Regions from separate parts of the Homo sapiens genome. Here region 2 is linked to region 1. A link means that fine-mapping ties the variant in region 1 to the expression of a gene that starts in the linked region. Tissue or cell type: esophagus muscle. Region 1 holds a variant in brackets; the other region holds the start of a gene. All regions are shown on one strand. Distances are from middle to middle.

Evidence for each region. PIP is the estimated chance that this variant, and not a neighbour inherited with it, causes the effect.
Region 2: SETX starts here. The variant in region 1 is fine-mapped to the expression of SETX in esophagus muscle (GTEx, PIP above 0.99). The same link has a PIP of 0.9 or more in gastroesophageal junction, sigmoid colon and tibial artery.

The regions. Positions count from the first base shown.
Region 1 is chr9:132,274,322-132,282,425 of GRCh38, forward strand. It overlaps SETX (senataxin), which reads right to left. Exons shown (of 26, transcript NM_015046.7): 20 at 7,146-7,253; 21 at 3,749-3,936; 22 at 2,739-2,831; 23 at 935-1,099. Among named protein-coding and RNA genes, the nearest start is that of SETX, 77 kb to the right of the region's middle. The variant T/C (reference allele first, on the strand shown) is at 5,092.
Region 2 is chr9:132,350,730-132,358,826 of GRCh38, forward strand. It overlaps SETX (senataxin), which reads right to left and starts at 4,257. Exons shown (of 26, transcript NM_015046.7): 1 at 4,188-4,257; 2 at 2,920-3,026. RefSeq lists enhancers at 464-513, 3,521-4,022, 3,842-5,041, 4,023-4,522 and silencers at 3,907-4,116, 4,167-4,556.

The DNA.
Region 1 (8,104 bases):
AGAATGACTTGTGTTCATTCTTCTTTTAATATTTGATAGAATTCACCAGCTTAGCTTGGTTCTGGGCTTTTCATTATTGGGAAATGTTTCATTATTTGTTATAAAGGTCTGATTTTTTCTTTTTTTTTTTTTTTTGAGATGGAGTCTCGCTCTGTCACCCAGGCTGGAGTGATGCAGTGGGGCAATCTCAGCTCACTGCAGCCTCCGCCTCCTGGGTTCAAGCGATTTACCTACCTCAGCCTTCCGAGTAGCAGGGACTACGGGAGCGCGCCACCACGCCTGGCTAATTTTTGTATTTTTTTTCAGTAGAGATGGGGTTTCACCATGTTGCCCAGGCTGGTCTCAACCTCCTGACCTCAGGTGATCTGCCCGCCTCAGCCTCCCAAAGTGCTGGGATTACAGGTGTGAGCCACCACACCCAGCCTACAGGTCTGATTTTCTATTGTTTTCTAGATTCGATTTTGGTAGTCTGTGTGCTTCTAAGTTAAGATGATTTTAAGGTTATGGATCTCCAATATTTAATCTTTAATTTTACTGCTGAGGTAAGAAGGAAACAAAAACATGATTTTCATTCTATACATAAAGGCAATACAAGGGTTAAATCATTTATTTAAAGTGAAATGTTACTTTTAGTCTTGCTAGAACAAGAATTCAGATGAACAAGTCATGGAACTAAAAGGTAAAGACCTGGCAAGTTTCTTAGTCAATTCCACTGCCAAGGAGAATGTTGACATTCCAACTGCCAGGAAGTAACCTGTCTACCCAGGAGCCACACAGCACAAGTCTATGAAAGCCAGCAGCATCCCAGCTTCCTCGTGCCGTATCACCAATTTGCACAGACCACTCCTTAAGAGTTTCCCTTTTCTTCTTTCCTTCTATATCCTCTCATTCTAATTCAACAAGAAAATTGGAAATATTTATAAAAATGCCTCACCCTTTTCTATCGAACTCTTTGTCCAAATCCTTCTGAATCATCGTCTTCTGGGCCTTGTAATGAGTTATTATGCCAATGTTTCGAAAACTAACATCCTTTCTTTTGTCTTTAATAAGCTTAATTATTTCCATCACCAGTTTTATTTCTTGAACATTTATATATGAGCTAAACAAGATGGAAAAAGAAAACACAGTGTTATCAAAACTAATAGCAGGCTAATTGCTAACTTAAGTTCCACTGAGTTTGTTTCCCATTATAGTAAAGGGCAGGCAGATAGGCTTCATCTTTTATTCAGCTAGCAGTGACTCCAAGAGGCTGTTACAATGACCATTAATATGGTATATATGAATAAATGTGAAAATACTATGGTAAATATGAATACATGTGAAATGCCCAGTGAAAAATGAAGTTGTAGAGAGAAAAGAGTTTGAAATCAACTGAAGTTTAGGCACCACTTTCTTCATCTGTTGAAACAGGGAGAGCAGTATTAAGAACAGCAGTATTAATAAGAACAAAGATGTGAATAAGAGATAGCTAACATGAATTAAGGATTAACTATCTTCCGAACACTGAGAAAATGCTTTACATGTATGATCTTCCTTGTCCCTCACCACTGGCTGCATACAACACACACCACACAACCGAGCAGCTGCCATCCACACAGACTCAATGTGAAGGATGTGTCCCACTTGACCCCAGTTGAACAACATGGGGCCCTGGAGCAGGTTCATGTCCTCTTTGTAGTCCTCAGCAGCCTCATATCCTGCACTCTCAACCCCTCCTGAAAACACATGCTCCCTCATGACCATACCGGACCCAAAATGCACCAAGACCAGGGGATGCACTGCCCCATCCCTTGATTCCTGAGGCTACCTTACCCGCCTTGCTTTACGAGCCTTAAATACCCATTCTCCTAACTTTGAGACTTACTAAATGGACAACCCAATCAGCTAGCGATCTCTTCCATCCCTGAAATCCTCATGATGCTCTGCGGCTTAACTCGCAATCCTCTGCTCTCCTCCAAGAGGCCTCATTAAAACCTTTAGGCTGCAGTCCCTCCAGCACTACAATCCCATGGCCAACAACTCCTCTGTATGTGTAACCTCTTCAATGAGTGTTCCCTACTTCCACCTCTGTATCTTATCTAACGCCTGATTCTCGCCTGAGGACGCCACCTGCTCTGCAGCCATCCCATGATGTAGAAGTGGGATTTGTGTTTCCTCCTACTTCATGACAGAGTGGCACTTGTATCCGTGCCAACAAATGCTGCCCCTAGACCATTCCTCCCCTACTCTCTCACAAGAATCCCCAGCTCCTCTGACATTGCTGCTTCTAGCAACACCACTCCTCTTTGCTGTCATATACAGACCACCTGAACACATGCCCTTATTCACAACCCAATACCATCCAACCTCTGTCACTACTTCCTTCCTCCCTTTCACATTTTCATTCAACTGAATTTATACTTAGCCTTCACAGTACTTAACCCAACTGGAATAACTGCTTACCCAGGTGATGACCTGCTGAAGGCCTGTCTTCCCATGAGACCACCATCTTGCAATGGGCACGTCTGTTTCCCTCACTGCTGTGAGCTCAACAAGTATCTACTCAAGCACTTGCTTATGACATTAGGTAATATTATCCCCATTATACAGAAAAAAGAAGCATCAACTTAAGTGAACATGACTGTGCCCTGACACTAGGCAGAGAGATGTGTATAGGAAATGTATTTAACAGAAATATGAATGCAAATCATGTAACAATTCTGGGACTATCAGAGGACTGAGGCAAGAGGAAAACATACTCATTATCCCGTCTTTCTGAACCATCTCCAACATCAAACACAAGGTATGGCTGAAATGGCCAATCTGATGAACATCGAATGGCTTCTGTCTGTCTGTAAAAAAAAAAAAGCAGTCAACATTCAGAATAAAGTCAAGATTTAAGAAAATATCTTGGTATTACTACAATTTTTTCTGTGTGGTGATGTGGGCTGGGGCAAGTAAGGGGATAGCAGGAATATTCTTTTCTAGACGTGTATTAGTGAAAGGTACAAAACAAATTCTATTTCTTTCCTGGTGCTGGGAGAGGTGTCTATATCATTAAAATATAACAAGTATGATTGGAAAGACACTCATAATAGAGTAAGCCACAGAATACTATGTTAAGTATGGTCCCACATTTTTCCTTCAAAAATTTAAAAAGTAAAAAAAGATATGCATAGTAAAAGGACTGAAACTTGGCCAGGTGCGGTGACTCTCGCCTGTAATCCCAGCACTTTGGGAGACCAAGGCGGGTGGATTGCTTGAGCTCAGGAGTTCGAAAGCAGCCTGGGCAACATAGCGAAACCCCGTTTCTACAAAAAGAAAAATACAAAAATTAGCCAGGCATGGTGGTGACTGAGTGTAGTCCCAGCTACTCAGGAGGCTGAGGCAGGTGGATTGATTGAGCCTGGGAGGTCGAAGCTGCAGTGAGCCAGGACTGTGTGCCACTGCACTCATCCTGTGTGAGTGACAGAATGAGACCCTGTCTTCAAAAAAAAAAAAAAAAAAAAAAAGGACTGCTGAAAGTGGATATACCAAAATGTTACCAGTGATTATTTCTGGGTAGTATAAATATAGGTGACTTTTTCCCCTTTTCTTTTTTATGTGCTTTGCTGTATTCAACATGATGGCTATTATAACAGGACAAAATTATTAACCCTTCATGATTTATGCTTTTTATGACAAGACCTAAGACGACAGTAAAATGTCTATTCTTCATAAGTAGCTAAACTACAACAAAATAAGGTCACAAACAATAAGGGGAACTCACCTATTTGTTTTTAAGTTTCTGTTATAAACATAATTAGAAGGGAAGAGGCATATGTCTGGATGCATCCTGTACTGAACAGTGAGCTGTAGAATGGGCAGCCTGCTGATCATGTTGTGTTCTACATTCTCTTCCAGCAGTCTGCAGAAGCGAGCCATCATTGACTGGTCGTAGCCATACTCCTGTGCTTTCTGTGAGGGGCAAAATAAAGCAACAGTTTCCAAGAATTCATTTATATCTTTCCCACTATTATAAACACAATTACTGAGATCTAATACGTATATGGCAACGTTCAGGTAGCATAAGATTACCAACCACAGCTTCAGAGAAAAAAGGTGTTTCTGACTCTGAGCCTCAAAATGCCATGAATCTTTTTTTTTTTTTTTTTTTTTTTTTTTTTTTTTTGGAGACACAGTCTCGCTCTGTCACCCAGGCTGGAGTGCAGTGGCGTGATCTCAGCTCACTGCATCCTTCACCTCCCAGGTTCAAGCGATTCTCATGTCTCTGGCCTCCTGAGTAGCTGGGATAACAGGAATGAGCCACCACACCTGGCCAAAATGCCATGAATCTTGAATATATGTGGAGGTCTTTTCTACTCATATACTGCTAATGAAAGAGATATGATCTTGTGAAAGACAACTGATGCTATTTTGATGCTACAAGACGCCACCCAAAAAAACCAGTAATAAAGGAAATGTAACACAGATTTTAACAATTATTTCTGGGGGTACACCCTCACAGACAGACATATTGAATGCCACTGTAAACAAGCCTTTTGAAGACAAAATTCTTCATTCATCCATCTAATATGTACTAAGCATCTATAATTTGAAGTGCTAAGACCACTAGAGTGAATAAGATGAAGTCTCACAGGACTTAATTTCCAGTGAAGGAAACAGACTCGACTTATGTGTTGACCATCCCTAATCCAAAAATCCAAAATACTCCAATGAGCATATCCTTCGAGCGTGAACTTTAAGCATAAAGTCAGCACTTGGGAAGTTTCAGATGGTGAAGCATTTCAAATTTTTGAATTAGGAACGCCGAAGCTGTGCTAAATGGATTTCACAAACCAAATAATGGGTTATATTCTGCAATCTGAAAAACAGTGACCTAAGTGACAAGTGGGATAAACTGTCTTGATGTTACCACAGTTGTGCCTTGGGATCTACTTTCCGATGGCAGCAACACAGAAAGTTTCAAAAAGGGGAGGGGGAGGGATAGCATTAGGAGATACACCTAATGTAAATGACGAGTTAATGGGTGCAGCACACCAACATGGCACATGTATACATATGTAACAAACCTGCATGTTGTGAACATGTACCCTAGAACTTAAAGTATAA[T/C]TAAAAAAGAAAAGTTTCAAAAAGTACTTTATCTTAAATAACCCTGAAGTAAAAATGTGCTGAAAACTTCACTAAGATGATGGAATCTTCATGAGTGATGTGAAAGATACTGGCACTGAAGACGTGCAAAGCCTGAATAAACTTGTTTCACAAACTATGGGAGTGGAAGAAAGGCATTACTTCTTAACCTATTTATATGTGTGATTTTAAACAGGTTTGTGAAAGCATAAAATAATTATTAATAGATACATGCCAATTTTCCCTAAATCCTCAAAAGTTTATCTGCGTTAGCTCACAAAACCTAATTTTTAATCTTTTCTTTGGGGAAACAGAAAAGGAAGTTATGTAAGGTAACGCATCTACCTCCAGACAAAACCTTAGTCCATTCTACAAATGACATAGATTTATTAATATATATTCTGACATGGGAGGATGTCCCTGATTTACTGATTGAAAAAAAAACCAATTCTGCACAGAATGATTTTGCCACCTTTAAACAAAACCAAACCCACGTACATATACACATAAACATATACATGTATACAAACCATATACCACTTTTTAGTAACTGACTCACTGTTAACCCCTAGAATACAAACACCATAAGGGCAGGGATTTTGTCTGTTTTCTTCACTGTCATAACCCCAGCCCCTAAACAGTGCCTGAATTATGGTGGCACTCAATATATACATACTGAAAAAGACGAATAAACACACAAATGCCTAGCAATATCTGTTAAAAATACTCACTTTCACTGTAATTACCACTAGAAACAGGTGGTCAAAAAAGGCACCTTATGGAAATGAACTTTGTAATTATTTTCTCAAAATAGCCTGTTTTATTTGTACAACAATTTAAACAGCACAAATGGATTTTTTTTTTCTAATTTTTGTTGTTTTTATCAATCATTGAAGTAGGCAGTAAAGTTGAGGCCCATTAACAATCTCTCTTTTCACTATATGCCAAGGCCCTTCAATGAAATCCTGCATCATTTAAAGAAATGGGATACAGAATTTGCTCTTCATTATTCTCCGTGAACAAAGTTACCTGCAGCAGTTCTTCCCTACACACACGGGTTTTCACTGGGTGACGGGTGTGCTTCTGGGCCACACTCTAACATGATCATGTACCTGCGCTCAAATGTCATACAAAGAACTGCACTATCATTCTGAATAATTCCGAAATCAAAAACCACTAACGATAACCACCTGCATTCATTCCAAGCTTCAACAAAAATGCTTTGAAAATGATCTGTTCTCTAGGATTATTTATGAAGCCACTGCTCAATTATCTGTATAAATAATCTATGTTATTAGTAAAAAATACACATTTCATTAAATTTCAAAACCTCTTCAGATTACTTCAAAACATCTACTGGATCCTGATTCTAATGTGCATTTCCAGGAGAATCTTTCATGAGATTAAAAAAAACCAACAGAGAAGAGTAGACTACAGTCTGGTTCTTCTCTTCCCAAAGTCAGAGCTTGTAATTGAGTCTTTTTTTCCCCTGTACCTTCACTTTCAGATGATGTGAAGGGCACAGACATGTTCTTGTATTAACACTAGAATACCAAATTCTAAAAATGGAAATGTACTCCAAAATTAATTTAACTTCATGTTTTCCTCAATTTGTACATATTTAAACAAAAATGAGGAGGGTAGGATTCTTCTCTTTATTTCTGAAGTTTTTCTTTTATTATTGTTTTGGTGTTTGTATGATTAAAATAAATCAGATTCAGCTCTTAAGAGACTTAAAAAAGGCAGACATGCACACTGCCTTTCCCAAAGCTTGGTTTCCATGGCACGTCATCCATCTAGGCTTCCAAGTCCCTGCCACACTGCTTCTGCCACACATACACAGAAGAACAACTATGACCAAATGGACATTTTTAGGCATTTTTTAAAATTTATTAAGTGCTTCTCTTTTCTTAGTTACTGCTTACTTTTCCCTCCAAATTAAGAGGCCAATCCAAGAAAGATGTCTCTCCCTCCTGAAAACAAAAATTTTAAAAAGCCCCTTCCATTTTAAAGCAATCTGAACATAAAAAACTTACCATAGAGATGACTGTCGGAGGGAGCTGCTTAGGATCTCCTACTAGGATGAGCTTATTGCAGCGATGGATGAGTGGAGTAAGAGTCTCAATTTCACAAGACTGTCCAGCCTTGGTAAGATACAGAAGAGAGAGGCAGTCTTAACAATCTTTGCTATTTATCCATATAGTTTATCTGATTAAAGTTCTAACCATTCAGAAAAGTATCACACTTCTCCTGCACCAAATATCAAAAATACAAATTTTCCCTGAAAACAAAAAAACAAAACAAAACCAACAAAATAAACCCTCCAGGCTGTGTGCAGTGGCTAACACACGTAATGCCAGCACTTTGGGAGGCCGAGGTGGGTGGATCACCTGAGGTCCGGAGTTCAAGACCAGCCTGGCCAACATGGCGCAACCAAAAAAATTAGCTGGGCGTGGTGGCAAGTGCCTGTAATCCCAGCTACTTGGGAGGCTGAGGCAGGAGAACTGCTTGAACCCAGGAGGCAGAGGTTGCAGTGAGCCGAGATCACATCACTGCACTCCGGTCTGGGTGAGTGCAGACTCCGTCTCTAAAAAAAAAAAAAAAAAAAGCAAGACTCCGTCTCAAAAAAAACAATAAATAAATAAAAAGTAAACTCTCCAAACATGTCTAAAAAAAAAATCAAACTTGTATTTTTGAAGTCAGCCACCAACGGGGCCACTACCACTTGGGAACCAGCCGTAAGTTCAGAAGGCCATGCACATCCTAGATGCGTGCTTTTTGTTCCTGCTGGGCATGAGCCTGAAAAATTTTTCTCCTTTAAAGTCCTTTTAAAACTTTATTTTAAATTTTTTATTTATTTTTTAACTTATTTTTTTTTTTTTTGAGAGAGAGAGTCTCACTCTGTCACCCAGGCTGGAGGGCAATGACATGATCGTTGTTCACCGCCTCCCGGGCTCAAGCAATCCTCCCACCTCAGCCTCCCGAATAACTGGAA
Region 2 (8,097 bases), 76 kb after region 1:
GGGTAGCTTTCAACATTAAAGTACATACACACAAAAGGACATTTAAAAATGAGATTTCAAAAAACAAAATCAAAACTTCTTTAGAAGAAATTTAATTTCACTAAGTTCTACATGAGGAGCTTCCTGAAAGCAGAGAAAAAGGATAACATGAGTTACACAGTTCTCATCGACGTGGGGGGGAAAAAGAGTATGCAGTGATAGCCGCAGAGTACCGCCCTTTCCTGACACAAACTCTAACTCAATTACATTTTATTAATGCCTTCTAGTACAAGGGCACTGCAGACTAGGAAATGCCAAGTAACATGGGATAAGGTCTTCAATGTATTTCTGCAGAATTTAAAATTATTTTATTCAAAAGAAGAATTACTTATACCTAAGAGGCCAACATCACACTACTAGTAAGTTAACAGCTTGCAGAAGCTGTTTTTTTTTCCGGTAACCTAGTTTAATATGGAAAGTGAACTTAGAAGACGTAAGAACAGAAAGTGAAACTTCATGGAGGTTTCTCAAACATTTGAAGCATGATTTCAGCAGCTAACAGACTGCAGCCAATTTAAGCTTTAAAAAACTTAAGTGAGACTACCATGCAAATAAAATGTTGCATACTTCTTTTCCCACTTACCTTACTTGAAGCTCCAAATGTTGTGTACTTTAAAATAAGTACTAACAAAGGAGACAACAAAAGAAACCTTCTATTAAGAAAATTACAGAATTTGCTTTTTATTTCACTTAGAAAACTAGCCTATTTCCACAACCAAAAAAGCAAGACTAAATTTTCTCAAAATATATAGGAGTTACTACCAAAATAGGTGAGTGTCATGGCCGCTAGAAGATAACGGAGAATACTGCTGCAGAGCACACCAACAAGAGAACATGTGCTTCCATGGTTCTTCTTCAAAAGGCTGTGTGTGTGGTTTTGTCTTCAAATTTAAAATCATCACTGGCCTAATGGCTAAGCCCAGGAAACCTCAATAGGGCATATTTTGTCTTTAAGGAGAAAATTATTGCTTCTAAACTACTGTGAATCCTCTTAAGCTTTTATACAACTCAGTTCTTCTTGAGGTCTATTTTGTTAGTTTCATCAGACTGTAACGGCTTGCAATCATTAGTGAATGACAAATGGGTGTGTCCAGACAATACTCAAGTTGCAAAACCAAAATTAAAGCAACTCTCTGAGCACCCACCAAAAAGAGAGCTAATGTGTCAAAACCAAAAATATAGGATGCTTCACCATAGGTATTACTGTAATTTTCTACAGACTTATCCTTAGGCTATCCATTTCTCAACATTAACTAGCCAGAAACTTCAAATAACAATCTCTTTCTTCTACACTTCTCAGCTAAACATCTGGAAGTTTAGATTCACTACCTCCCAGCTCTTCAGCTCCTTTGCACTCTGGCTTCTACCCTTACACTCCACTGAATGTGAAGTCCCTAACAATCTTTACATTACCAATCCAATAGGTTCCTGACCTGACTCTGCTAAAGCATATGAAAATGCTGCCCATCCTTTCCTTACCTACAACACACCATTTTTTGGACACCACTTCTACCCAATCACCTTCATAATTACCCCTGCCTTTGTTACTCATATAAATGCTAAAGTTTTCGAAGGCTTGTCCTGAGAATTCTCACCTCTTCATTCAGTACTCTTTCTGGGCGGCCTACTTCAAACCACTGCTTCAACTACTGCCTAGATTGAAGCTGCCCAGACTGAGAATGTATTGTAAAACTTAATGCAGGCAGGGCGCAGTGGCTCACACCTGTAATTCCAGCACTCTGGGAGGCCGAGGCGTGAGGGATCACGAGGTCAAGAGATCAAGACCATCCTGGCCAACATGGTGAAACCCCGTATCTACTAAAAATATAAAAATTAGCTGGGCATGGTGGTATGCACCTGTAGTCGCAGCTACTGGGGAGGTTGAGTGAAATGATGCACTGTTCCACCTACTCAATAACTGACAGCCTAGCCTAGAACTCCAGATATATTCAATATCCAACTGCATACAGTGTATCTCTACTCACATATCTGACAGGCACCTCAAAGTAAACATGACCAGAACCCAACGAAGTCCTTCCCTTAAATCTGTTATTTGTTCTATATTCCCTTGTTGATGACATTACCATACATTCAATTTTCAAACCAGTAACCTAGGAATTATCCTATACGCTCCTTCTCCCTCAGCCGCAATCTCTGAGCTCCAGAGCCTACCCCTTAATTACATCTCTACTTTCTTCTCAGTGCAACCGCCACTGCCTTAGTTCAGTACATTTTCATCATTTGCCTGGATTACTGAAGAAGCCTAAATGATCTATTTCTTCTTTGATCGCCATCAATTCCTCCTCCAAAATGCTGCCAGAGGCCAAAGCCCCAAACTGGACTTCGAAAGCACAAATGACTCCTCCTCCAATGTTGGGATAAAATTCAAATTGCTGAGCTCAACACACACAAGGCCCGCGATGATCCAGCTTCCACATCATCTCTTTCCTCCACACTTACCTCCCTTGACTTGCTCTTCCTAAAACCATTCATGGTGACTGGTATTCCCTGCCTTTATGGAAGCTCTTCCACTGGCCTTGGAAACCCACCCTCCTACCTCTGCCCGGTACTTAACTGTGAATACACATCAGACTTACCTCAGGAACTTAAAAAAAAAAGTAGAAAAGATCCTATGGATAAAATTGTTTCCCTTTTAAAGAACTCCACTAAGATTCGAAGAGAAAGCTGGATTTGAGAACAACCAGTGTGCAAGCTCTTCCTGAGTGTCATCACGTCTGGGGGGGGGGCCTGTCCGACCCGTCCTCTCTTCCAGTCTATCTCTGATGACCTTCTTCTCTGTCCCTTTAGGACTCTGCACATGTTTCCATCATTGCACTTACCTTGGTGCTCTGAACTCCTGCTAAAAAAAAAAATTATTACCTGGACAAATGGCCTACAGAAAAGTGATCGTCTCAGCTGGGCTTAGTTGTGAACAAACACGGATTTGCATTCATATATGCCCAGACTCTGGCCCCAAAAGAACATTTCTGAAATTAAAAAACAAAAAACGAAATTGGTAAGTGGCATTTATACTCTATATCCCATCTGAGCCTGGTATCGATCCTATTACAGACAGATACTGCTGGCTGATGAGGAAGCCCAGATAGGTTAGACAACTTGGCTGTGGACTTCCAGGAAACAGCAGAACTGCAATTCTGACTCCCAGTTCCACAAGGGGCTGTCCCCACTCACGGGGACAGCTAGGCACCGAGCCAAAAATCCCCCAAGTTATTAGCCCGCGCAGGTAACATCAATCCTAGGATCCTCAGCTGTGTCACTTATCAAATACCACACTCGGCCTTCTCCTTGTGGAGCTCTTTTCCCTCAAGGCAGTCACCCCCGTTTCACTTGGGTCGTGCAAATTGCTGGGCACATCCTTAGATCCCCAGAAGTTGGGGAGGACGGACAAAGTCCTGTGGCCAGCAGCAAAAGCTCCAGCCCCTCCAAGTGGGAGAAACAGACTCTCCTCCAAACGAAGGGACCGGCCGGGCGCGGCGGCTCGGAGGATCCCTGGAGCAGCTGAGCTCAGCCTGGGAAACACAGCCAGGCCCTGTCTCTGCAACACATTTTGTTTTTAATTAGCCGGGCGTGGTGACGCGCGCCTATGGTCCCAGTTACTCGGGGGGATGAGGCGGAAGGATCGCTGGAGCCCAGGAAGACGAGGTTGCTGCGAGCCGTGACTGTTCCACTGCACTTCAGCCTGGGTGACAGAGCGAGACCCCGTCTCAAAAAAAAAAAAAAAAGAAAAAAGAAAAAAAAACAAAGGGAGGGACTCCAGGCGAGAGGCAGACGAGCGTGTGGAGGGAACCGACACTTTCCACCCCGAGACCTCCCGCTCAGCCCCAAGGAAACTACGCAGTATCCACACCAAAAACAGCTCACACGAGACCGCAGTGTAGACAACGGAAGGACAGGGGGTCGCAGCGGCCGGGTCCAGCGCGCAGGAAGGCAACAGGCGGCCGCCAGCCGTCGAGGGGTGCTCCCGCCCCCGCACCGAGGGAAGCGGCCGAGCCCGCGCCGACTCTTCCCCCATCCGCCCACCGGGACCTAGGCGCCGCGATGGTTCCCCGAAGCGGCCCTGCAAGCACAAGCCGCGCCTGCGCTCACGCCCGCCCGACCTACGGCCTCCAGCCCGCCGCTACCCTCACCGCTCTCTGGCTGGCGTCGGCCTCTAGCCCACCTCCATACCGGGCCCCGCTCTAGGCCACCAGCGGAAGTGCGGGCCCGCAGCCGCAGCTACCAACCAGCTGTTGCCGCGAGGTAGGCCCCGCCCCCGCGCTGAGTCGGCCGGCCGCAGGCCCCGCCCCGGCCGCTGCTTTCTGGTTTTGGTGCCCCCCAGGGGGCGGGGCATGGGAAGAGCGGCCGCGGTGCACCGCCCACGCCGGGCGCTGGCGTCACGTCCGGGCAGCTGGGGCCCGACCAATCCCGAGTCCCCGTCAGGGTGGACGGGGAGAGTTTGCCGCGGAACCTTGACCTCGGCCCCGCCCGGGGCTTCCTGCGGGTGGGGCGGCTCCGGGATGAGCTCTGCTGCGGGTGGGGTCAGCCCTTACCCGCTGGCCATTTCCGTTCCCTCTTTTTTCTTCTTTTTTCCACGCCTCAGGTGTCTCAGCGGATGTACTACGGTGACGAAGTAATTTTTCTCTTTAGATTTCCTTTAAAGACCTGAAATGTAAATTACATAAACGTGTAATTTCGGAGGAATATGTGTATATCCTTTATATTACAAGAAAGGGAGACCTTAGGTCTTGCGAACAATGCGCGCGATGCGCAACACAGCAGAGTAAATCCCTCGCTGGTGCGGTGGCTCCCGCTTCTAATCCCACCACTTTGGGAGGCCCAGGCGGGAGGCTCGCTTGAGCCCGGAGTTCAGAGACCAGCCTGTGCAACATAGCGAGACACCCGTATGTACAAAAAAAAATTAAAACTCAGCCACCGAGGCCGGGCGCGGTGGCTCACGCCTGTAATCCCAGCACTTTGGGAGGCCGAGGCGGGTGGATCACCTGAGGTCAGGAGTTCGAGACCAGCCTGACCAACATGGTGAAACTCCGTCTCTACTAAAAATAAAAAGATTACCTGGGCGTGGTGGCGGGTGCCTGTAATCCCAGCTACTCAGGAGGCTGAGGCATGAGAATGGCTTGAACCCGGGAGGCAGAGGTTGCAGTGAGCCGAGATCGCACCACTGCACTCCAGCCTGGGCAAAGGAGCGAGACTCTCTCTCCGGAAAAAAAAAAAAAAAAAAAAAAATTAGCACCTGTGGGCCCAGCTTGTTGGGAGGCTGAGGCAGGGGGTGGATATCCATTGAGACCGGGAGATCGAGACTGCAGTGAGCCGTGACTGTGCCACTACACTCCAGGCTGGGGAACAAAGCAAGACCCTGTCTCAGAAAAGTCTATAAATAAATAAAAATGAGTAAAATCCACTGGAAAGCCTATCCCCCCCCTTTTTTGTTTTTGAGATGGAGTCGCGCTCTGTCACCCAAGCTGAAGTGCAGTGGCGCAGTCTCGGCTCACTGCAACCTCCGCCTCCTGGGTTCAAATGATTCTCCTGCATCAGCCTCCCGAGTAGCTGGGAGTACAGGCGTGTGCCACACGCCCGGCTAATGTTCATGTTTTTAGTAGAGATGGGGTTTCACCATGTTGGCCAGGATGGTCTCAAACTCCAACCTCAAGTGATCCGCCCCGCCTCGACCTCCCAAAGTGCTGGGATTACAAGCGTGATCCACCGCACCCGGCCCCTACCCCCTTTTAGTAACGCCTACTACTGACCACGATGATGCAGCGTCACCGTCTTACAGTTAATAGAGGAGACAGGGAAATTAAACAATTAGTAGTGGTGACTCAGGCGATAAAAAAAGAGGCTGAGATGGGCCAGCTTGGGAAAAGTGGGTCAGATACAGCCTTACCGAGGAGAACCCTGGCCCGAGGATGAGGAGCAAGCCCAGGGGAACACTGCGGGAAAGGCCCAAGGCGAAGGAAGATTCTAGCAAGGGGGCGTGGCTTGTTGGAAGGGCGTGGTGGCCGTTATGCAAATTTAACCGTCTAAGGAGCAGCACGCGTTGACCGTTATTTTCCTCTTTTCTACTTCTTCATCCTGTCAAATATTTTGAACATATTTTGTTTTATCATATAACACTAATATACCAACACAGCCTTTATACCACCACAGTCATAAAATATAATTTTTTTTTTTTTTTGAGACGAGTCTCGCTCTGTCGCCCAGGCTGGAGTGCAGGGGCGCCATCTCGGCTCACTGCAAGCTCCGCCTCCCGGGTTCACGCCATTCTCCTGTCTCAGCCTCCCGAGTAGCTGGGACTACAGCCACGTGCCACCACGCCTGGCTAATTTTTTGTATTTTTAGTAGAGACAGGGTTTCACCGTGTTAGCCAGGATGGTCTCGATCTCCTGACCTCGTGATCCGCCCGCCTCTGCCTCCCAAAGTGCTGGGATTACAGGCTTGAGCCACCGCACCCGGCCATAAAATATAATTTTTATCATTTTTTTTAATGGAGAAAAGTGCCATGAAGGTAACTTGTGCCCAGAGCCCACAAAAGTCATAATTTCCTCCTGTCCCTGAAGCCCTCTGTAGGCCTTATCATCTTCCCACATTTTTTGTCTGTGAACAACATATAAATTTTACATGCTTTTTAACTCTGTATATGGAATTATGGAGGATGTATTTTTCTGCAAATTGCTTTTTACACTCAATGTTATGTCCTGAGACTCATTGATTCAAGGTGCATTCAGGAATTGTTGAGCCCAAAACTTACACAACCTATAGAATGTTAAACAGAAGCACTGCAATAGACTTTGTAAATATAAAATTAGAAATGAAAATTAATACTTATTTGGAATGAATAAATAAGTACAAATTACAAACTTCTAAAGCTGATAAAACCATAAACATGGCCAGGCGCAATGGCTCAGGCCTGTAATCCCAGCACTTTGGGAAGCTGAGGTGGGCAGATCACCTGAGGTCAGGAGTTCAAGACCAGCCTAGCCAACATGGTGAAACCCGGTCTCTACTAAAAATACAAAAATTAGCCAGGCTTAGTGGTGCATGCCCGTAGTTCCAGCTACTTGGGAGGCTGAGACAGGAGAATGGCTTGAACCCGAGAGGCGAGGCGACAGAGTGAGACCTCATCTCCAAAAATAAATAAATAAATAAATAAATAAATAAATAAATAAATAAATAAATAAATAAAAAGACTGGGAAGTATGAGGCCTCCAGTATCGTTCTTTTTCAAAATTGTTTTAGCTACTTAAGGTCCCTTGCTATTCCATGTGAATATTTAGAATTGGCTTGTCCCGTTTCTGCAAATAAATAAGTACAAGCAGTTGGAATTTTTATAGGGATTGAATTGTATTTTTAGATACATCTGGGGAATCAATTGACACCTTAACAATATTAAGTATAGCAGGTTCTCTAATAAGATCATTTTGTTCAATGTGGTTTTGTTATAACATTGATGAGAAAAAAAAAATCCATTCCTGCTCAAGGCTTTTTTTTGAGACGGAATCTCCCTCTGTAGCCCAGGCTCTGGAGTGCAGTGATGCGATCTTGGCTCACTGCAAGCTCCGCCTCCCAGGTTTCGGTTCAAGCAATTCTCCTGCCTCAGCCTCCTGAGTAGCTGGGATTATAGGCACGCACCACCACGCCCAGCTAATTTTTGTATTTTTAGTAGACACGGAGTTTCAGCATGTTGCCCAGGCTGGTCTTGAACTCCTGACCTCGTGATCCGCCTGCCTCAGCCTCCCAAAGTGCTGGGATTACAGGTGTGAGCCACCGTGCCTGGCCCCGAGGCCACTTTGTGTGTGGAGTTTGCCCCTTCTCCCCATGTCTGTGTGGGTTTCCTCCAGGTACTCCAATTTCCTTCCCGATTCCAAAGATGTGCCAGTTAGGTTGATTGGCATGTCTACATTGTCCTAGCCTGAGTGAGCATGGGTGTGTGTGTGAGTGTATACCCTGCAAAGGGATGGCATCTTGTCCAGAGTTGGCACCCACCTGGCACCAGGAAAGATTCTGGCCATCCGCGATCCTGAACTGGAATGAGTGGGTAGA